3 linked regions of the Homo sapiens genome follow. The protein of the gene in region 1 purifies or fractionates together with the protein of each later gene. This does not show direct contact. Each region holds a gene or a part of one and is shown in the gene's direction. Other genes may lie near its edges.

What was found.
Region 2: the proteins of SNAP29 (region 1) and SGF29 purify together in Homo sapiens (affinity purification with mass spectrometry; 4 studies listed by BioGRID and IntAct, with this or other methods). This does not show direct contact.
Region 3: the proteins of SNAP29 (region 1) and STX18 purify together in Homo sapiens (affinity purification with mass spectrometry; 5 studies listed by BioGRID and IntAct, with this or other methods). This does not show direct contact.

Annotation. Positions count from the first base shown.
Region 1 is NC_000022.11:20,854,656-20,862,006, forward strand, and holds the start of SNAP29 (synaptosomal-associated protein 29), read left to right. Parts: upstream 1-4,351; 5' UTR 4,352-4,455; coding exon 4,456-4,692; intron 4,693-7,351. Other genes in the region: PI4KA (phosphatidylinositol 4-kinase alpha), read right to left, coding at 3,915-4,070. UniProt on the Homo sapiens protein: SNAREs, soluble N-ethylmaleimide-sensitive factor-attachment protein receptors, are essential proteins for fusion of cellular membranes.
Region 2 is NC_000016.10:28,584,128-28,591,919, forward strand, and holds the end of SGF29 (SAGA-associated factor 29), read left to right. Parts: intron 1-785; coding exon 786-861; intron 862-1,520; coding exon 1,521-1,593; intron 1,594-4,972; coding exon 4,973-5,037; intron 5,038-5,968; coding exon 5,969-6,098; intron 6,099-6,168; coding exon 6,169-6,315; intron 6,316-6,503; coding exon 6,504-6,539; exon of another isoform or gene 6,540-6,544; intron 6,545-6,645; coding exon 6,646-6,808; intron 6,809-6,913; coding exon of another isoform or gene 6,914-6,925; exon of another isoform or gene 6,926-7,462; coding exon 7,463-7,579; 3' UTR 7,580-7,663; downstream 7,664-7,792. UniProt on the Homo sapiens protein: Chromatin reader component of some histone acetyltransferase (HAT) SAGA-type complexes like the TFTC-HAT, ATAC or STAGA complexes.
Region 3 is NC_000004.12:4,420,049-4,427,840, reverse strand, and holds part of STX18 (syntaxin-18), read left to right. Parts: intron 1-2,618; coding exon 2,619-2,677; intron 2,678-4,253; coding exon 4,254-4,323; intron 4,324-6,896; coding exon 6,897-6,977; intron 6,978-7,711; coding exon 7,712-7,792. UniProt on the Homo sapiens protein: Syntaxin that may be involved in targeting and fusion of Golgi-derived retrograde transport vesicles with the ER.

The DNA of each region.
Region 1 (7,351 bases):
TCGCCAGGTCAACCCTATCTAGATCAAGCCCCACGCAGTCCTCCAATCTCTCAGGAAGAAAGAAGAGAAAAAAATAGAAGCAAAGAGAAGGGGAAGAGGGAAGAGAGAAGGGGAGGGATTGGGTTTTAAATACTCATCTCCCCCTATAAGTCTCCATCTTTATTATCTCAGGTGCGTACTCTAAAATTCCTTTACTCTTAAGAACAAGAAACTTGGCCGGGCGTGGTGGCTCACGCCTGCAATCCTGGCACTTTGGGAGGCCGAGGTGGGCGGATCACCTGAGGTCAGGAGTTTGAGACCAGCCTGGCCAACACGGCGAAACCCCATCTCTACTAAAAATACAAAAATTAGCTGGGTGTGGTGGCAGGTGCCTGTAGTCCCAGCTACTCAGGAGACTGAGGCAGGAGAATCGCTTGAACCCGGGAGGTGGAGGTTGCAGTGAACCGAGATCATGCCACTGCACTCCAGCCTGGGCAACAAGAGTGAAACTGTCTCAAAAAAAAAAAAAAAAGAACAAGAAACTTTTCCTTGGGAATGCTAAGGGCTTTTTGTCAATTGCTTCAAAAGGAGGAATGTAGTAAAACACATATTATAGGACTACATATTTTATATATATATATTTTTATTATACTTTAAGTTCAAGGGTACATGTGCACAACATGCAGGTTTGTTACATATGTATACATGTGCCAGGGACTACATATTAACAATGATCCCTAGCATAATCAAGTCGCAAGATCTTAGATAAGGATGAGAGGAATTCACATATATTTAATGGGGTCAGCCACTTACAGAAGCCTCCTCTATGAAATAAGGTGCTTCAGGGGTCCCCAGACTGCCCACATGTATATAGTTGTACTCATGGCTAAATTTTTTACAGTGAATGGATATCAGCAATAGGAAAGGACCTCAAGTGTCACTAAAAGCATGTCAGGGCTGCCTGTAGAAACCCATGCACAGGCTTCCTTATGTTCTCTCCCTCCTGTGAGGATATACATCAAGCTTGCTCCTTGCTACAGCAGCAAAATATTCAATACATGTGTGCAGTTTGTGCCCAGGAAAGTCCATTAGAGAATCAGCACCCTAAGTTTTTAATTTATGCACCACCAGCCTAGCCATCAGATTCCCAGAAGGAAAGCAGGTATTCAACATAAATCATAGTTTGTAAAAAGGATCTAGGCATAGTGAACCATCTTTATTACTAATAGTTACAGGATTGAGGAAAGCATTCAAGTGCTTATTTCCCAGATGCCAGCCAAAGGCCAACTTTGTAAGCAGGCTCTTGTAAAAACAGCAGCCCCAGTGCTGCTCTATTCACTCTTCTTCACAGAAGTGATTAGTAATAGCTAGGCACAGTGGCTCATGCCTGTAATCCCGGCACTTTGGGAGACCAAGGCGGGTGGATTACTTGAAGTCAGGAGTTCAAGACCAGCCTGGCCAATAGGGTGAAACCCCGTCTCCACTAAATACTAAATACTAAACCCCGTCTCTACTAAATACTAAAAAATTTGCCCGGGGTGGTGGCACACGCCTGTAGTCCCAGCTACTCAGGAGGCTACAGTGGAAAAATAGCTTGAAACTGAGAGGCAGAGGTTGCAGTGAGCCGAGATCTCACCACTGCACTCCAGCCTGGGCAACAGAGCGAGACTCCCTCTCAAAAAAACCAAAAAAGTGATTGGTAAATGTTGCCAATGAGACTGAAGTACTTCCTAAAGTAAGTGGCATTAGGGAGCTGCCAACCTGTGGCTATGGCTGTGTTCCTTGTAAAATATAATCTTTTTCTTTTTTTTTTTTTTTTGAGACAGTTTTGCTCTTGTCACCCAGGCTGAAGTGCAATGGCGCAATCTTGGCTCACTGCAACCTCTGCCTCTCAGGTTCAAGCGATTCTCCTGCCTCAGCCTCCCAAGTAGCTGGGATTAGAGGCACGTGCCACCACACCTGGCTAATGTTGGGTTTTTAGCAGAGACAGGGTTTCACCATGTTGGCCAGGCTGGTCTCAAACTCCGACCTCAAGTGATCTGCCTGTCTCAGCCTCCCAAAGTGCTGGGATTACAGGCATGAGCCACCGTGCCCCATCATAAAATATAATCTTGACAACTGAAGCAGTTATTACTACAAAGCTAAGAATGTTGCAATTACAGAATGTTCTCGTGACTAGTGAACATGGCTGAAGAAGCAAATTGAGCTCAAGGTGCCCTTTTCTGAGTTACTGAGTGGAAAGGGTGCTACCACTGCTGGAGCTGCAGGACCAGCTTCTTAAAGATCATCCAATTCACTGCATTCTCTTCTCTCTCCTCCCAGAATCCAGCAATCAGTCATAAGATATATTTGTTGGCTCTCCTGCTAAGAAGCGAATGTGCTGACTAGCTAGCATGAGTTTGATTCAATAAAACAGCACTACACTCCATTAGTCAGACTATCTAATGATAACAGTGCTCATACATTAGGTACCCACGTGCCTTTTTGTTGCTCTTCACAATACTCCTATGAAGTACTACCTTGTATTTGACAGAAGATAGCAAAGTATCAGAGAAGGGAACTGACCTGTCTAGAGTCACACTAGTGAAAGCAAGTGATACAGGATTTAAATTCAGAGGTTCCATTTTCCAAACTCATGTCCTTTCCATTGCATTGTACTCCCTCTTTAGCTAGAAGTCAGGTTAGCACCAATCTGCCGGGACCTTCTCACCCCGAAGGTGCATGATAAAATCAAATATGAGAACCGACAAGGCCAAGGACCAGGTCACTCTGCCAAAAGTGCCTAAAACAGCCTTTCAGCTTCATCCATCAGCAGACAGCCACAAAACCACTCCCAACTGCAGCAGGCTGGTCTCCGGTCACCACTGTCTTATCTTGTCGGAAAACATCCTCTCTCCATGTGCCAAAAAGTTGAGTGGGAAAATAATTCCATCCTTTCAGAGCTAAACACTGTGCTGAGTCTCATCGCACACGGGTGGGCAAAGAAAGTTGACATTTACTGCTCACCCACTCTGTGCCTTGACCTGTGCAAGATGCTTTATGCTAGAACTCATTTAATTCTCAAGAACAACCTCATTTTACAGATAAGGATACAGAGGCTCTAAGAGTTAAATTTACCCAAGAGGACATGGTAAGTAAGTGCCAGTGCAGGGAACAAATTCAGGTCCCACTCTAAAATCTGTCTCTTTCCAGATCTCAAGGCACACCACTGAGTTGCCTTTCACCTTTCTCCCAAGATGAGGATTGCTCTGGCATGACTTCACCTTTCTCTTCTGAAGCAATTCCAAGTTCACTTCTCTGCCCACTGACAGTTCACTCTCCTTTCCCTGCCACTGTCCCTTCTGCAAACGCACAATCTTTTACCCAACCTAACGCCCCCAGCCTCGTAGAATAACACTGCGCAGTTGGTTTACAGTCACAAAGCACTTTCAAGACAGTGTTTCGTCTCCTGGTCACCACAGTCCGGTGAAGCCGGCAAAGCAGATAAAAGCATCCCCATTTTACAAGAAAGCCATCTTCCCAAGGTCGCGGAATAAAAAGCAGGTGAAATCGGAAGCAGAACCCCAGGTCTTGACCCCTGGTCCTCGGCTCATCCCACTGCTCCGCACAGCCGCCCACGATCCAGCCTCCACCTCCGCGATGTCACAAGATGCTCCCTGGGCCAGCAGCTCACATCCCCCACCCCCATCCCACAACCACCCACCTGCAGCGGCCCTGCAGGCCCCGCCGACCCTTCCCCCACGGTCCCTCTCTCTTCACCAGCCCCTCCCACTAGGGCCTCCTTCCCCCGCTAGATCCCTCCGCTCAGGCGCCCCCTCCCGCACAGGCTGCCGGCGAGCCCAGCCTCGGCCTCCCACAGACCCTCGTCCCGCCTCCACGCTTCGTCACCCCAGCCCCTCCTCCTGTCAGCCCGCGGCCCAGCCCGCCGACGTTACCTTCTCCAAGGATGCTGGTCTCTGCACCGCCAGGGAGCGGGCCAGTGACAGGACCGTGTTGAAATAGAAGCCCCGCGAGGCGCTGGAGCCGGAGCCGGAGCAGCCGCCGCCGCCTCCGCCTCCGCCTCCGCCTCCCCGGGCCGGGGCCGCCGCCATCACCTCACGAGCCGCGGCGCTGCCCGCCGGCTCCCCGCTCCTGGCCCGCGAGCGCCCGACCTCAGGGCGCAGGCGTAGGTGCATCCGGCTTTCCCGCCACGTGACCTCTCAGTTGCTGACACTAGATAGGGCGTGGCTGCGGGGCGGGCCCACCGCTGCAGGGGAGAGAGGGGATGGACAGTAGGCTGCGGTTGCGCGCGCCGGATGTGGGCCCCCCCCAGCCGACCTGCGCGATGGTCGGCTCCGAGGGCGGGGCCACCTGCGCGCGACGCGCGGAAGGAGTTCGCGCGACGACCGCGGGGTCGGCGGGCGGGGCGAGGCCCTGGACGGCGGCGGCAGTGGGGCTCCTCCTTCTGTTTCCCAGACCGAGAGCCGCGCCGGCACCATGTCAGCTTACCCTAAAAGCTACAATCCGTTCGACGACGACGGGGAGGACGAAGGCGCCCGGCCGGCCCCTTGGAGGGACGCCCGAGACCTCCCCGACGGGCCCGACGCGCCCGCGGACAGGCAGCAGTACTTGCGGCAGGAGGTCCTCCGCAGGGCTGAGGCCACGGCCGCCAGCACCAGCAGGTCCCTGGCCCTCATGTACGAGTCCGAGAAGGTTGGGGTCGCCTCTTCCGAGGTGAGCCTGGGGCAGGGCTGGTGTGGACTCGCCGGTCTCTGTGCTGTCAAACGGAGACGAGAAATGTTTTGCTCACAATCTTTTGAGAATTCTCAAGTTGCCTAGCATAGATTCTTGCACCTTAGTGACTCGATGGTGGTAACAATCTGTTAACTATGTAAAGGTATGTGCATCTGGAGTACTTGAAGAGGGCAGTTTACCCCAGAAATCTTCCTTAGCTATTAGTCTGCTTCGTTGATTTTTTTTTTCTTACGCCTAGCTCACGGGGAAACGCCAGATTATTTTCTGTCCAGGTGAGTAAAAATTCTGAACAGCAGGTCCTAGGTTTGGGAAATGGAGAGTCCGTTTCTTCGACATTATTTCCTGTGCAAAATCTGGCACAGGGTTTTGGCCATTCCTTCCGGAGTGAGCCAGAAAGAGAGGACTATGTGCCTGCGAGTGTCAGGTGATACCCTGAAGCATCAGGGCAGGTGGTCCACGAGTTCTTCCCGCATCATTGACATCTCCACCTAACCAACCAATAGAGGTATTGAAGTCCCTTCAGCCCAGACAGCTGCCTAGTTGACCAAAGCCTGGGTTTGATTGAGTCCAGGGTCTTACCTTTACTTCCCAAATCCTAGACAAATAGTGTGCGGGTTAAGAGTTTGTTGCTCCAACTCATCTTCATCAGTTCTTCCCATCCTTAGATTTCAGAGAGTAGTACCTTCAATAACAATTATTCTGGCCGAGCGCAGTGACTCACGCCTGTAATCCCAGCACTTTGGGAGGCCTAGGCGTCGGATCGCCTGAGCTCAGGAGTTCGAGACCCGCCTGGGCAACATGGTGAAACCCTGTCTCCACTAAAATTAAAAAAAAAAAAAAACTAGCCGGGTGTGGCGGTGCGCCTGTAGTCGCAGCTACTCAGGAGGCTGAGGTAGGAGAATCGCTTGTACCCGGGAGGCAGAGGTTGCAGTTAGCTGAGATCGTGCTGCTGCACTCCAGCATGGGCAACAGACCGAGATCCTGGAGGGTCTTTTTCTTTTTCTTTTTTTTTTTTTTTTGAGATGGAATCTCGCTCTGTCGCCCTTGCTTGGGTACAGTGGCATGATCTGGGCTCACTGCAACTTCCGCCTCCGGGATTCAGACGATTCTCCTGCCTCAGCCTCCCGAGTAGCTGGGACTACAGGTGCGCCGCCACACCCGGCTAATTTTTTTTGTATTTGTAGTGGAGACAGGGTTTTGCCCCGTTGGCCAGGCTGGTCTGGAACTCCTGACCTCAGGCAGTCCGCCCGCTTTGGCCTCCCAAAGGGCTGGGATTACAGGCGTGAGCCACCATACCGGTCGAGAATGATTCTTTATTGTACACCACAGTCTCTCTTCAGCCTGCTAATGAAACAGTTTTGTTTGGACAGAGAAAAAAAAAGGTTTAAAAAAATGTATAAGCCAGGCGCGGTTGTACTTCTGTAATCCCAACAATTTGTAAGGCTGAGGTAGGCAGATCATTTTAGCCCAGGAGTTTGAGACCAGCAGGGGTAACTGCGTCTCTACAAAATTTGAAAAATTAGCCAGGCATGGTGGCACACACATGTGAGTGCAGCTACTGAGGAGGCTGAGGCAGGAGGACCGCTTGAGCCCAGGATGTCAAGGTTGCAGTGAGCCATGTTCATACCACTGCACTCCAGCTTGGGCGACAGAGCAACACGCTATCATTTCCCCTTGCTGTTTTCTTGGGTTAATTCCCTTCCCCACCTCTCTCTGTTCATGTATCCCTCATTGATCCACCTCCCTGTGGTTTTTTTTTTTTTTTTTTGAGACAGATTCTCGCTCTGTCACCAGACTGGAGTGCAGTGGCACCAACTTGGCTCACTACAGCCTCCGCCTCCTGGGTTCAAGTGATTCTCCTGCCTCAGCCTCCTGAGTAGCTGGGACTAAGGCGTGCACTACCACACCCAGCTAATTTTGGTATTAATAGAGTTGGGGTTTTGCCATGTTGGCCAGGATGGTCTCGATCTCTTGACCTCGTGATCCACCACCTCGGCCTCCCAAAGTCCTGGGATTATAGGCGTGAGCCACTGCACCTAGCCCACCTCCCTGTGTTTAACTGTTGGTTTTTTATTTTTGTTTTGTTTGAGACAAAGTCTTACTCTGTCACCCAGGCTGGAGTGCGATGGTGTGATCTCGGCTCACTGCAACCTCCACCTCCCCAGTTCAAATGATTCTCCTGCCTCAACCTCCCAAGTAGCTGGGATTAGAGGCACCTGCTACAACACCTGGCTAATTTTTTTGTTTTTGTTTTTGTTTTTGTTTTTTTGGTGTTTTTTGTTTTTGAGACGGAGTCTTGCTCTGTCTCCCAGGCTAGAGTTCAGTGGCGCGATCTCAGCTCACTGCTACCTCTGCCTCCCAGGTCAAGCGATTCTCCTGCCTCAACCTCCTGAGTAGCTGGGCTTACAGGCACCCGCCGCCATGCCCAGCTAATTTTTGTATTTTTAGTAGAGACGGGGTTTCACTGTGTTGGTCCGGCTGGTCTTGAACTCCTGACCTCATGATCCACCTGCCTTGGCCTCCCAAAGTGTTGGGATTACAGGCGTGAGCGACCACACCTGGCCTCTGATTTTTGTATTTTTAGTAGAGACAGGTTTCGCCATGTTGGGCAGGCTGGTCTCAAACGCCTGACCTTAGG
Region 2 (7,792 bases), on another chromosome or scaffold:
CTATACGCACATGCTACAATGCCCGGCTAATTTTTGTATTTTTAGTAGAGGTGGGGTTTCATCATGTTGGCCAGGCTGGTCTTGAACTCCTGATCTCAAGTGATCTGCCCACTTTGGCCTTCCAAAGTGCTGGGATTACAGGCTTAAGCCACTGCACCAGGCCCTTTAAGGCCTTTTATAATGCTTTTGCATTAGTCAAAGGAGAAAATCATCTTGAACTCCTGAATTTGGATTTAGAAAATGAGGGCCATAGCCGGGCGCCCTTGCCTGTAATTCCAGCACTTTGGGAAACCGAGGCAGGTGGATCACGAGGTCAGGAGTTCAAGACCAGCCTGGCCAAGATGGCGAAACCCTGTCTCTACTAAAAATACAAAAAATTAGGCCGGGCGCATTGGCTTACGCCTGTAATCCCAGCACTTTGGGAGGCCGAGGCAGGCGGATCACGAGGTCAGGAGATCGAGACCATCCTGGCTAAGACGGTGAAACTCCGTCTCTTCTAAAACTACAAAAAATTAACCAGGCGTGGTGGCGGGCGCCTGTAGTCCCAGCTACTCGGGAGGCTGAGGCAGGAGAAAGGCGTGAACCCGGGAGGCGGAGCTTGCAGTGAGCCGAGATCGTGCCACTACACTCCAGCCTGGGCGACAGAGTGAGACTCCATCTCAAAAAAAAAAAAAAAAAAAGAAAATGAGGGCCGTATTTTGGGGATGGGGACTCTGGCCTGGCTGGCAGGGTACCACAGCAGCACAAAGGGCCACCGTCATGTCCTGCTGCTCTTTTCCTTACAGGAAGAGCGTTCGCGGAGCGAACACAACTTAGTGAACATCCAGAAGACCCATGAGCGGATGCAGACAGAGAACAAGAGTGAGTAGCTGGGCTCAGGAGAGAAAGGGGATGAGATGGGGCTAGGGTGAGTATGGCCAAGACTGTGACCGAGGTGGTCATTGTATTCAAAATAGATTTGCATGTATCTGCATATTCCAAAATGCAGCAGGAGGGACAGCTTTCCGTTAATCTGGGTGACCTGAAGAACTAAAATCCCTCTACTCTGAGGATTCGAAAGGCAGTGAAATGAGGCTGTATCTAGGGAAGCTTGCCCTTAGAGCACACAAGCGCCCCAGTTAGCTGGTGTTTTCTAGAAAGGAGCTTCCTTCCCAGGCGGCCCCTGCATCTGCCCTGAGGCCCTCAGGTGGTGAGATCCTGGGGCTGGGGCTTTCTTACTCTGGGTAACTCTGAGAATTGTGTTTTCCTGGGTCCTGACAAATATTTTCTGTGAGTGTCATGATGGAGAAAAGGTAAGACAGTACTCTCGCAGATGTAGGGATGGCATTTGTACCATATGGAAATGCGGACTCATGGAGCCTGGGGGCATCCGCCTCAGGAGCACTCCTGAGCCAGCAGAGCTCTGACTGCAGCTACGGCCTCTCTGTGCCTCCACGAGTGTGATTCCGGTGCATGGAAGCAGTGCCATGCTACTGTGCCTGCCCTGGCCCTGCCTCCTTATCCCTGTGTTTCCTCTGCAGTTTCTCCCTATTACCGGACAAAGCTGCGTGGCCTCTACACAACCGCCAAGGCCGATGCAGAGGCTGAGTGCAAGTGAGTACCGTGCACCCACTTCATCGCCGCTCCCTCCTTTCCTGGGGGCTGGGCTGCAGGTCCATTTGGACCAAGTCCCCAGCCTGCCTTCCTCCCATGGATAAGCTGATTGCTACTCCCAGCCTCTCGCTTGGGTCCCGCATTCCCTGGCCCACTGCCAGGCCCACTCTTCCAGTTACCTCTGCTGCTAATGCCTTTACAGAAGGTGGCAAGGCGTGAGTCAACACTGCCGTTTACTGGCTCTATGACCTTGGCAGAGTCATTAAAATAGGGATATCAGGGGCTGGGTAGCTCAGATCTGTAATCACAACATTACAGAGGTGATTGGGAGGCCGAGGTTAGAGGATCACTTGAACGCAGGTGTTTGAGACCAGCCTGGGCAACAAAGTGAGACTTTGTCTCTACAAAAAGTTTTTAATTAGCTGAGCGTGGTGGCATGTGTCTGTAAGCTTGGCTGGGAAGTCATACTCAGATGACCTGAAGGTTTTATGGTTCTGAGATGGAGAAGTTTCACTTCCAGAAAACTCCTGCTTTTAAAATAATCTTAAGGCCGGGCAGGCACAGTGGCTCATGCCTGCAATCGCAAGGTGGGTGGATCACCTGAGGTTGGGGGTTTGAGACCAGCCTGGCTAGCATAGCGAAACCCTATATCTACTAAAAATACAAAAATTAGCCAGGTGTGGTGGCGCACGCTACTTGGGAGGCTGAGGCAGGAGGCGGAGGTTGCAGTGAGCTAAGATCGTGCCACTGCACTCCAGCCTGGGCAACAGAGCAAGGCTCTGCCTCAAAAAAAAAAAAAAAACTAAAATAAAAAAATGATCTGGAAACACTGTTTCCTTGAATCTCTGCAGGAGATTCAGGAACTTGAACATTACATTCCTCTACTTTGAGAACACACTGGTTCTGAAGTCTGACTGTGCCCAGAGGCTCTGTTTATTTGGGGTGGAGCTCCAACATTGGTATTAACTATCTGACATTTCCTCACTAGTAGGATTCATGCTTTACACTTTTGGCACAGAAGAGGTGTCTCTGGTGGGTCATATTAGACGGCACAGGATGCTGTCTGTGCCATTGGTTAAAGTGGTATTTTCCACGTTTCTCTTGTATCAGATTACTGCTATTTTCCATTGTGTGATTGATCGATTAAGACAGGGTCTCAGTCTGTCATCCAGGCTGGAGTGGAGTGGCGTAATCATGGCTCACTTCAGCCTCAAACTCCTGGCCTCAAGTGATCCTCCTGCCTCAGCCTCCTGAGTAGCTGGGACAATAGGCACCTGCCACCACTCCACCTAATTTTTGTATTTTTTGTAGAGAGGGGTTTTGCCATGTTGCCCAGGCTGGTCTTGAACTCCTCAGCTCAAGCGATCCACCCACCTTGGCCTCCCAAAGTGCTGGGATTACAGGTGTGAGCCTCTGCACCTGGCCTCCATTGCATAATTAATAAGTGTCTTGGGAGATACTTTTGAGACTGTAACTATCCTGTTCATATCAAACACACTAGTTTTAGCATCCATTTATGATTTGTGCGTGAAACAATTGAGATTTTTTAAACTTCCCCCAGGAGATTCTGATGCCCACCAAGGTTTGAAAGCCACTTCAGTAACATGTCACAGAAGACAGTTTAGGACAGGCTGTATAAAACTGTATCCTCCACACAGGCCTGGCAACAGTGATGAGACTCTCAGAGTTCCCTTTGGCCCCGTGGCTCTTTCTCCTTCTCTGCTTTCTGGGGTCCCGGTGCTCACAGCCTGAGGTGGCACTGGCTGGGCCATCCCTGCATTGTACGCAGCAGGCAAGCTGTTCCTTGTCCCTGCGTTGGTTTGGCTGCCCTTGGCCTACCTCCATCTTCTGGCCCTGGCCTGGTGAGGTCCATGAGTCACATGCCCTGGGGCACCCCCGGACACCTCCCGAGATGCTGCATCACACCCAGTTCCTGTGCATCTCCTTCCTGCCGCACAAAGGTCTTTAGAACTCCGGGTCATTTCAGAAAGGCTTGCCAGAGGAATGGACTGGGGTTTGCCATGGTATCAGAGGAAAATAAAATGACCCAAAGTGGAGTTTGTGCTGCTGACTACTGTGGAAATACGTATTTTTTTTGAAATGGAGTTTCGCTCTGTCACCCAGGCTGGAGTGCAGTGACACAATCTCGGCTCACTGCAAGCTCTGCCCCCAAGGTTCAAGCGATTCTCTTGCCTCAGCCTCCCAAGTAGCTGGGATTATAGACGCCCGCCACCACGCCGGGCTAATTTTTGTATTTTTAGTAGAGAAGGAGTTTCTCTATGTTGGCCAGGCTGGTGTCGATCTCCTGACCTCAAGTGATCCTCCTGCCTCAGCCTCCTAAAGTGCTGAGATTACAGGCGTGAGCCACCACACCCATCCCTGCTGTGGAAATACTCTTTGGGAAGATTCCCTGAGCTTTAGGATGAAGGAGCCTCACTCCAGCCAAGTTCTGTGTTTGCTTCTGCTGGGTTCTTTGGGTTCCTGCCACCCTGGAATCCCCATAAACTAACTTCACAGAGGCTTCCTGGGGCTTCAAGGCCATGCAGGGGTCTGTCTTTGGGTTCAGCCTTTCAGAAAGGATGAGGTCCTTCCACCCAGTTCTGCTCTGGGCCAGCACCTCTCCCCAGAGTCTCCCCTCCTTTTGTGTGACCCTCGGGCAGACCTGAGGCCCCCTCTCCTCATTTCAGGAGGTTCCTGCAGCCTTTCTGCAGGGTTTGCCGAAGGCAGTTTGCCTGTGTCCTTTCCTCTCTGGGATCCTGTGTTCTCTTAGTTTTTGGCATGCTGCTTTCTACCACCTTGTTTTTTATGTTCTTAAGACTAAAAGACACATACTGAAGATTTCCAGTTTTCTTTTTTTTTTTGAAATGGAGTTTCGTTCTTTTTGCCCAGGTTGGAGTGCAATGACGCGATCTCGGTTCACTGCAACCTCTGCCTCCCAGGTTCAAGCGATTCTCTTGCCTCAGCCTCCCAAGTAGGTGGGATTACAGTTAAAGACGCTCGCCACCACACCTGGCTAAGTTTTGTATTTTTAATACAGACGGGGTTTCACCATATTGGTCAGGCTGGTCTTGAACTCCTGACCTCAGGTGATCCACACTCCTCGGCCTCCCAAAGTGCTGGGATTACAGGCGTGAACCACCACACCCGGGCAGATTTCTAGTTTCACCATGAGGTTGGTCTGAATAACCCAGCCCACCTTGACCAGAACAGGAACCTGCACACACCTGTCATTCCACCTGCGCAGGAGGCTACTGTGAGAACCTCTGGAGTCCGGGACCAGCCTGGGCAATGTAGCTTGACCCAAAACAGAAAAAATGGAAGAGAAGTCTATGCTATGTACGTTAACCAAACCCTCTTTCTCCCTTCTCCCCGCCCTCAGCATCCTTCGGAAAGCTCTGGACAAGATCGCGGAAATCAAGTCTCTGTTGGAAGAGAGGCGGATTGGTGAGTGGGAGAGAACATGCTGGGAGGTCCTTTGCTAGGACAAGAGGAGAGGCCCTGCGGGCAGCAGTCACCCTCCTGTGGGGGCCTGTGGCCACCACCTGCTGGCATCCTCCCATGGAGGCTCTGGCAGACTGGCTCTACCACTGAGAAGGGACAGGAGGTCATTCCCAGTGCCCAGAGGCAGGGGTTTCCCAGTTCTCCCTCAGCAGCCAGAGATCATCCCGCCCTGGCCCCTCATCTCCTGCCCCTTCTGGGGCCTGGGCCAGTCGCCCCCTCCTCTGCCATGGCCCATGCCCATCTGTTGCCCTGGCTGGTTTCTGCAGAGCCACACGCTGTGTGTCGTAAAGCCAGCCTTCCAGACCCCCTCAGCCTGCATTAGGCTCTCCTACCTGTCTGCCCTCCCAACAATCCCATGGTGGGCAGAATCTTGGCATGTCAGTGTCCCCACACAGCCATGCTGGTTCTGTGTGAAGTCAAGTGGGGTGTCCAGCTGTGCCTGAGGAGGTTGAAGGTGCACATTTAATTTTTTTTTTGGTTTTTTTAACTTTCTGTTGAATTACAATGTATATTAATAGAAGAAAAGTACACATAAGTGCAGAGTTCAATGAAATAGTCACTAACTGAACACACTTCTGTAACCAGCATTCAGATCAGCAAACACAGCCTGAACAGCACCTTGGAACCCGCTTTCTTTCTTCTGGTTCCTCCCCCTGGATCCCCGCTGTGCTGCCATCTCACCCAACTGTAGTTAAACCCAGCAGCCCCTATAGGTGCTGACACATGGCCGATGGGGTCACAGTCCTGCTGGGCCCTCGGGCTCACTCGGGAACTGGGGGCTCCCAGGTGCTCCTTCAACAGCTCAGTGCAGCATGCTCGGGGGTCAAGGCCGGCACCTATCCCTGGGGCCTCAGGCCTCCCTTCCTTCCCACAGCGGCCAAGATTGCCGGTCTCTACAATGACTCGGAGCCACCCCGGAAGACCATGCGCAGAGGGGTGCTGATGACCCTGCTGCAGCAGTCGGCCATGACCCTGCCCCTGTGGATCGGGAAGCCTGGTGACAAGTGAGGGCAGCAGCTGCGAGGGAGGGGCTGGTGCCCAGGGGCTGGGACTGACCCTTTGTTCCACTCACAGGCCCCCACCCCTCTGTGGGGCCATCCCTGCCTCAGGAGACTACGTGGCCAGACCTGGAGACAAGGTGGCTGCCCGGGTGAAGGCCGTGGATGGGGACGAGCAGTGGATCCTGGCCGAGGTGGTCAGTTACAGCCATGCCACCAACAAGTGAGTGACACCAACCCTGGGGCTGCTCTCTGGTCACCGAACTTGCCTGGGCTACGGGAGAAAAGCTCTGCAGAGGGTGCTCCCCAGAGGCTGGTTGTGCAGGGAGCACCAGGTCCTCCCCCATCCTCACTCCCCAACAGGTACTGCGCCCCTGGCTGCATCCAGCCTTTTCCTCCTTTTGTCTGCAGGTATGAGGTAGATGACATCGATGAAGAAGGCAAAGAGTGAGTGTCCAGGCCAGGGCAGGGCATGGAGCCTGGGGGCAGCCTAACAGCTGAGAAGGAGCATCCCCACCCGGCCACAGGTTGATATAAGCCCCTCTTCCCCCAGGAGACACACCCTGAGCCGGCGCCGTGTCATCCCGCTGCCCCAGTGGAAGGCCAACCCGGAGACGGACCCTGAGGCCTTGTTCCAGAAGGAGCAGCTCGTGCTGGCCCTGTATCCCCAGACTACCTGCTTCTACCGCGCCCTGATCCATGCGCCCCCACAGCGGGTAAAGCAGCCTCCAGGGGAGAGGCCATGGGTGATGTCAGGAACAGGCTGATCAGACAGACGAGGGGTCCTCTCCCCACTCCTTCCCTTTGTCCTCATCTCACAGGCTCCAAGCTGACAGGACCCACCAGCTGCCCTCCCTCTTCCACTCCAGCCCCAAAGGCCACCATCCCTTTGCCAGCCCTGGCAGCCTTGGCAAGCCCCGAGTCAGTGGCTTCCAGCCCCAGGAGAACCAGCTCCGAGATGGGAAGCTCCTGCCCTGAGCCCTGGGCTCCTACCGCCTTGTGCTCTTGGTGACATGGGACACAAGCCACCTGAGGCCAGGATCCCTGCCTGCCACCCTCTGGGTTGCCCTCAGTCCTCTCAACAAAGAGTCCTTGAAAGGCAGCAGACCCTCCAGCTATGACCCCACTAGGAAGGGAGTCAGCACCCCTACTCCTCCCTGCCTATTCCCTGCCTTGGGTCTCCAGCCACTGAGAAAAGAGCTCTGTAGCAGCAGGGACTGGGCCAAGACTTCTTGACCCCAGAGTGAAGGATGTTAGGAGTGGCTGAGAGTCCACGGCCCAGAGCCTCCTGTGGTCTAGGCTGGGGGAAGGGGGTGCCTGTCCTGGCCTGGGGGTCTCTGAGCAGCCCCTCCTGTCTGCCTGCCCCACAGCCCCAGGATGACTACTCGGTCCTGTTTGAAGACACCTCCTATGCAGATGGCTATTCCCCTCCCCTCAATGTGGCTCAGAGATACGTGGTGGCTTGTAAGGAACCCAAGAAAAAGTGATGCCGCCTGGCAGACTCGCCATCCCCCAACGACACAGGGCAGGACAGCAGAGGACGTGCTGGGATTAAACACATTCCCCCTCTACTCGTCTCCTGGGTTTTACTTCTCCAGACCCTCTCCCCTCTCCAAACAGGGCAAGTTGAGGAGCTGGAGCGGGGAGGTGGCCGTATTTGGCCCCAGTGGGCGATCACTCTTTCAGCTCAGGGTTTCTCT
Region 3 (7,792 bases), on another chromosome or scaffold:
TTAGAGCCAGCATCTGATCCCACTCCTGAGTGCAGTGGAGGGCGGACATGGAGCTATCAGAAGTTAACAATTACGAAGAGGCCTAAGAGGAGGTGCCGCACCTAAGTGCCTTATACCACAGGCCCTCAAATTGGGGAGGAAACAAGAAAAGCTTTGTTCCCAAGGAACAGTCCAGGAATGAATCACCCCAAACCACTAGTTAATTTTGTTTAGGAACAGTTTCAAAGCATAAAAGGGACTGTGGATTTAAAAGGTCAGGGCCAGGGCCATATTTTGTCATTAGAAAAATTCAAGAAAATGCCGCCACCCAGGGAAAGCTGAGTAGTACCTGAATTAGCCAAAGTGAATTGGCGCCTGCATGTTTTAGTAATTACATGTTTTCCTTAAATACTGTCCTCTTAAGTAACTGTTGAAGTTAACAGAGCGGATACTTTCAAACTCAAAAGTGAAAGTTTTACTCTCTTAAATAGCCTTTGTCTTGCCTAATTAAAGGGGCCATAAGCAATTCTGTGTCAGCAGCCAGCACGGCCCCCTGCTGTGGATGAGTTGGTCCTGCAGGGAGCTTTCCTGGCACTTCCGCCCTTCCCAGAGCTTTGCCCCTTCCCCGTTTTCTGGCCCGGTGGGTCTGGAGTGCAGCAGATGCCTCCTTGTGTTTTGAGTAGCCGGGGCCGAGAACTGGTGTTCTGTCATGTGTGAGGCCCTGGGCTGGGCTCAGTGTCCAAAGGAGGACAGCTGCCTTCCACAGAGAGAAGACAAGCCCCCTGAACAAGTGTGAGAAATGTCCTTGAAGAGCCAAGTACAGGGGAACTTGGTAACAAGAGTGAGAAAGTAAGAGAAGGTGATTCAGTCTGCCCTGAGGTATCAGATCGCTAGGAAGATGCCTGGGGTTTTGAGGGACCACGTGGAGTTCTGCAGCCAGGCAGGAAACTAGCCTGTCAGAGCAGAGCTGAGATGGGAGATGTCACGTGGCCAGGGCATGGATAACAGTGTGCCCTAGACCTGATCTGTAGGGTCAGCGGGCAAGGCCACCATGAGGCATTCTGGCATGACCAGCACTTGAGATCACTTTGACCAAGGATTGGATAACAGGTTGGAGGCAAGTGAGAAACGGTGAGGGTGGAATGTGGACGGTAGGGGAAGGGCTGAATACAGCAAGTGCATGTGCGGGGGCGAAACTGGTGGACTTAGGAAGGGGCGTGTGTGTGAAGAGCGCCTGCATAGAGCACAGCTGGGGTACTTGGAGGGGAGGGGTCCTGGGTGGGAAGGAGGCTGCTGGGGAGACCCTGCAACTCATTTCCGCCCTAGGACAATGGCAACAAGGTCAGGCTGTTGAATGAAGTGCCAGCATAGCCCGTGGTGGTCAGCTGCCTCCCATAACCATTGTTTCCCTTGTATTTTTGGTTTACTAAGCAAGTGATAAGCCAGATCTTCCATCGATTCGGAGCCTCCAGAGGCTTGCTTGTATGTATCCCTCCCACTCCTGCTTACAGAATGCCTCAGAAAATATTTGTGGATTTGATGGCAGCTTTAATCTATAAGAAAGAAAGAACAACTGGAATGCCTTTGCAAAGTTATGTTCCACCCAGTTCCCGCCCTCAGGAAGCTCAGGGTGACACGGGAAGTTTGGGATGGGCACAGTTTATTACAAGGCAGAAAGGGACCGTTGGGCGCTACTATCCTAAGATATTTTCAGAAAATGGTAGGCCAAGGATAGGAATATGAGAAATAAGTTTGAGCTTAGGGGCCAGGGTAGGTGTCCTGGAGAAGTGGGGCCTGCGGGATGCATCGGGGAGGAAATGCAGGACGCCCCTGACTCCCTGCACATTGCGGGAGTTGAGTGGACACACGAGGACAGGGCTGTGGGGGCCTGCAGTGAGGGCAAGGAGCTGTTCCTGTCCATTCTCTGTGCTGAGTTTCAGGAGCTTCCATCCTTTTCTTTGGCCCATATCAAACTGGCAAGAATGGCTGGGAGAGCAACTGTCTGTGCCAAGCTCACTCAGCTCCAAGAAGCTCCCATGTATCCCTGGTGTCAGGGCACCCGTCCTCACCCAGCCTGAGCACTGGGAAACACGCTCCTCTGGCTCTGGGCCTCTGTCCCTGTTGAGCAGTGGAGTGGCCAGGCTCTGAAGTCAGAGGGGCCCAGAGGCAGCTCGGCCAAGCTGCCCACCTCCCCTTCCTCTCCAGACCCTCCCCACACCAGATCCTTCTCCATATTAAAAAATATGTATAGTCCTTCAGTATAGTTCATGAGAGAAAACAACAACAAAAGAATTTTCTTAATAATGGTACTAGAGTCAGGAAGCAGGCCGTGGGATCCCAGGGGAGAGCGGGTAGGTAGATACAGCTACAGCCATAGCAGTCAGCTTGTACCCCTGGAGTGCAGTGGTTGAGATGGAGAAGTCAATTACCAGGCAGCACAGCTGTTTTTTAAAACTTTCTCCTGAAAGCAGGGACGTTGTTCACACTAATGCTAACGGTCGTCCAGCACCGGCTGCCACGTTGCCGCAGCTGGAAATGGGGGCTTCGGCAGTGATTCCTGGAGCGTAGGTCCGCTTTCTTGCTAGACTCTTGCCTAAGTTCAGTATGATGTCATCCTGAGTGTGTCTGTTTCCTCACAGTTTGAACAGGAAAATCAGCGACTAATTGGTGAAATGAACAGCTTGTTTGATGAAGTGAGGTATGTTTGTAGCTCCTCTGTGAGCTGATAGCCTGCTTTACAACTTTTCCAGGAACTAGGAACTTTATTTACCTTGGTGCCCAGGCATCCCCATGGGGCCCTTGGGCTGGTGCAGCCCCCCTCAGCCATTTTGACTGGGCTGGGGTGGGCATGTGGCCTGAATCCACAACTCCCTCAGCTTGTGGGCCTGTGGGTTACCTCCTGCCTGCTGCCACTGCTGCGGGGGGCCCAGGTGCTTCCCACCCCGAGAGATACAGGAGTGACTACAGATTACCTGCGTATAATTTCCACCACCATTCGGGCTGTTTCCACGCAGCGACTCTGAAATGAAATGGGGCCCTTATGAAGGGCAGCTAACCAAGGGAAGCCCTCTTCTGCAAATGGTTCCACTGGGGTCTGCCTGCTCCTGTACCCACCAGGGAGTCAGGAATGCAGAAGGCAAGGCCTTGGTCACTCACACATGCACCCGTTAGCCTCTAGTTTCTGTGGGAAGGCTTGGAGCATGCTGAAAGTAAGGCCCAGGACTTTGCAGAGCCTGTTGTATTGTGGACATGTCCCCCAAATAAAATCAATCCTGATGCTGCACTCACACAGCCTGAGGACTTTCTCAGTGTAGGTGTCAGCCTCCAAGGGGCTCTTCGCCTTCTGCCCTCAGAGATGGACCTCCTAGTCCTCCTCTGACAGCCTAGCTTTCACTGTCTGCCCCACTACCGCCCCCACCCCGCTACTCCCCCATGCCCAGATACTCACTGGCTTTTCTTCCCACATCTCCTCCCCTGCCCCCTGCCACTGTGATACTGTTGGGATTCATCACTGCTTCCACCTGGCCAGGAGCTCAGCTCCCACCACTTTTTGCCTCCTGTCACTTCCTGTCGCTGCTTTGTGCTGGAACAGCAGTTGACTTCAGCTTGGGCCAGCTTCTGTTTCTAAATAGATGTGCCCCCACCCGCCCCCCAGGGTAGCCCATGCTGCCCCTGACACCAGGAAGATGGCTAGCCCAAGTGTTTCAGATCCGACAGAACACTCCGTTGCCAAACCAAGACATGGCATTTTCTAAATGAATCAGAGGAGCTTTTTTCTTGGAACAGGGAGTTGGTTTGAAGGTAAATACACTTTTTTCTTTAACCTGCTGAGCATTAACAAAGCTGGATCATCAGCATATTCTGACCTTCTGAATCCCCACCATGTGTTACCATGGTGATGAGGCTAGGCAGAGAACTTACTGGAGACTGCTTTCTGTAACTGGGGCACAACCAGGCCCTCCCCATTCCCCGAGCAGTGACACAGAATGCAAAGGGCACTGCACACACCCACCTCTTGGGACTGAGGGTCAGTTGGCATGGTAGAGTGGACTTCCAAAAAGACCAGTGTGCTAGGCTATGCCAGAAGACAGGGAAGGTGACCCAGTAAGGAGAGTTCGCCTTCCTCTCCCATCTCCTCTTCCCCCAGCCGACACAGTGTGCCCCCTGTCTCTCCCACCTTCACGTAGAAGATAGGATTTCTTTAGAAGTGTGTAACAGTCCTGTTAGATTACCAAGTGCTAATAGTTAATATGTAATCTGTTCTTTTTATGAAGGCAAATCGAAGGGAGAGTGGTTGAGATTTCCAGACTCCAAGAGATATTCACGGAAAAGGTTTTGCAACAGGTAAAAAAACAAAAACAAAGGAGCTGTATGTTTTCACTCAAAGGGGAATGTACTTGAGAGCACGAGACATTTTTCCCAAAGGCTGCTGCTCTACACAGCCAGGAGCAGAGCCATGTGTTGCTAGCAGGTGTGTGTGCGCAGAGCTCCTCAGGGAAAAGCTCTCACTACCCAGAGCTGCCTCTGCACACGTGTGATGGAGGAGGAGCTCCCCACAGGGGACCCACTGACCACCCCATGTGGTAGCACATGCGGTGGCACGTGGGAGGAGAGTCCAGGCCTGGCAGTCAGGGTTCTGGATGTGCTGGGTAAGCTAGGTAGCCCCCACAAGCTACAGTTTCCCATCTATAGGAGGGAGGGACTCCTGCAGGGTTATTCTCTGTTTGAGAGATAACTGCAGAAGCATCCAGCACGATGCTGACGGGCAGTTGCTTTTCAGTCAGTAGGTTACAGGAGCTCAGACCCAGGCCTCTCACAACGCGCGGTCCATGCCACCTCAGGGATGGTGTCTGCGTGGGAAATAGGATTGTTCTTTTCAAGTGAATTTTCTGAAATTCTTCCAGCCAATAACTGGCAAAACTTTTCAAGACCTGATAAATTTGCCCTTTTATTTTTAGCATCCAAAGACTATGGGAACGTTTGAAAGACAAAATTTTCTCCAGTATTTTAAACTGGACTACTTGACTTAAGATACTTCACTCACAAAATGACTTTCCATAAACCACACAGCCAGAGTGAAATCATTGTAAATGAGGTACATTAAGTCTAACAGTGGTTTGCAAGTTCGGGTTCATAGGAGTCGCCCTTTTTAATAACACTACCCTGCTTCAAACCTCCCAGCGGCTCCAGGGGGCCTGGGAGGGGCGTGCAGAGCATAGGCAGAGCCTTGCCTTGGCTCACCGGGAGTTTCTTTTTCTTTTCTTTTTTTTTCTTTTTCTTTTTTTTTTTTTTGGAGACAGAGTCTTGCTGTGTCGCCCAGGCTGGAGTGCAATGTTGCTATCTTGGCTCACTGCAACCTCATCCTCCCAGGTTCAAGCGATTCTCCTGCCTCAGTCAGCCTCTTGAGTAGCTGGGATTACAGGCATGCCACCACGCCTGGCTAATTTTGGTATTTTTAGTAAAGACGGGGTTTCACCATCTTGGCCAGGCTGGTCCCGAACTCCTGACTTCAGGTGATCCACCTGCCTTGGCCTCCCAAAGTGCTGGGATTACAGACGAGAGCCACTGCGCCCGGCCCACTGGGAGTTCCTAAGTCCTGAGGAACAATGTGTCTTTCTTGTTTTTTCCATCAGTGTTGCATTGTAGTTCATATTGATTCTCTCATTGGAACCTTGGCAGTGGTCACTTAGTTCACACTTTGAGACTCTCTAAAAAGGGGTGATGATGAGGCAAAGCCATCCCAGTAATATTCATTGCTGGGAATCAGAGGCCACATGCTGCCTTCCTCCCTACAATGTGTCAGTCAGGTTTCTCTAAAAACCCACGCTAGCATTCATTCTGCCCTGACCCTGTTAGGAAGCAGCTTCACCACCACCGAAAGGAGGAGAGAAGCAGGCACTCCTGCTTGTAAGGACGTCTAGCACCGTCTCTGCTCCTGTGGGGCCAGACGCCCCCTGTGTTATCCCACGCTTCTCAAGCTTTTCAAGGCTTCGTTTGGAGTAAACGTTTTCTGTAAGCATCCTGCATCCTATTTTGATTTTTAAATTTTAGCCTGTTTTTTAAGAGATATGATGATAGTAAAACACAAAGCACTATTTTTGAAGCTAGCATATGTATTTCGAAGCACATACATTTTAAAGCTTACTTCTGTGGACTTCAGAAAGAAATGAGAGACTAGAAGGGAAGCCCCTGGCATATGGTGGCTGCTCCACAAACAATAGCTCTTAGGTTTTTGTCCGTCACCGGCGAGTGGCGCAGGAGGGATGGTAAGTGTGGCGGAAGGAGCACTGCAACAAGATGGGGTCTCAGCCCTGCGCGGTGGCTCATGCCTGTAATCCCAGCACTCTGGGAGGCCGAGGCGGGAGCATGGTGTGAGCTCAAGAGTTCAAGACCAGCCTGGGCAACATAGGGAGACCCCCCATCTCTACAAAAAATTTTAAAAATTTAGCCAGGCGTGGTGGCACATGCCTATACTCCCAGCTACTTGGGAGGCTGAAGTGGGAGGATCGTTTAAGCCCTGTCTCAAAAAAAAAAAAAGTCTCAGTCCTGCCACTTGGTTGCTGTGTGATGTGACTTTGGGCAAGTTAGTAAACTTCTCTGAGCCGTGAGTTTCCGTTTCATAAAATAGAGGTAATACCTACTTCTTGGGGTGCTGTGAGGATTTGTGGCTATGCAAGTAAAGCCGTTAGCCCTTGGTGACGGCTACTGTTCTTGTCATGATATACGCTTCAGGGAGGAGGAAGTGGCTGTATATGTCAAGCATCCCTAAACTTCAAAATGTGAAGTCCTAAGTGCTCCAAAATCTGAAACTTTCTGAGCGCTGACATGACACTCAAAGGAAATGCTCGTTGGAGCATTTTGGGTTTCAGGTTTTTGGATAAAGGATACTCAACTTGTATTTATCTTTTCTTCCACAGGAAGCTGAGATTGACAGCATTCACCAGTTAGTTGTGGGGGCAACTGAAAATATCAAGGAAGGCAACGAAGACATAAGAGAGGTAGGCACTGTTTAGGTTCCCCAGGTGCGACGTGGCGCAGCACTGAGTCCCAGCAGCGGGTGTTAGTCTCGCCGGCACAGCTGCCCAGGAGCCTTGCTGGGCAGAGCTCACGGGGCTGATCACAAAATTGTGTGACCGCGGAGCTGCGTGTGTTCATGAGACCCACCACCTGTCGCCCACCTCCAGCTGCTTTCGAGAGGCAGTGGCTCACCAGCCTCCAAAGGAGCAATCCAGGGTGGGTGGGGGTACTCCTGGCAGGGTCAGGCCAGCTCTTCATGTCCAGGGATGTACATGGGTAGCTCGTTGGCCCCCACCGAGGGGTCAGAGCCTGGCCCCTGCTTACAGAGGACACTACAGCCATCCTGTTGAGGGGACTGTTTCCCAAGCTCAGTCCTCAGGGTTGGGTCACCACGGACATCATGTTACTGGGAAACACAAAGCTTGCGGTCACACTCTGCTCGGGGCCCTTAACCCTGGGACAGAAGGGAGTGATTCCGAGAGTTGTGTTGAGGGAGAATTGTGCAGGACCCAAATGATGGCCAAACAGAGGGAAATATAACCCATTTGTCTTCTGGTGGATCTCAAAAGCCATCTATTCAAGGTAAGCACAGATGGAACGACACCCATAGTTACAGCCAGGATCAGGAGAGCACGTGGGAAGAGGGGGGCATTTCAGGGCTGCTCAAACCAAAATCCTGTGTGATAAAAACACCTGTGCTCCCGTCCCTGCCCAGGCCATTAAAAACAACGCTGGCTTCCGCGTGTGGATCCTCTTCTTCCTCGTGATGTGCTCCTTCTCCTTGCTCTTCCTCGAC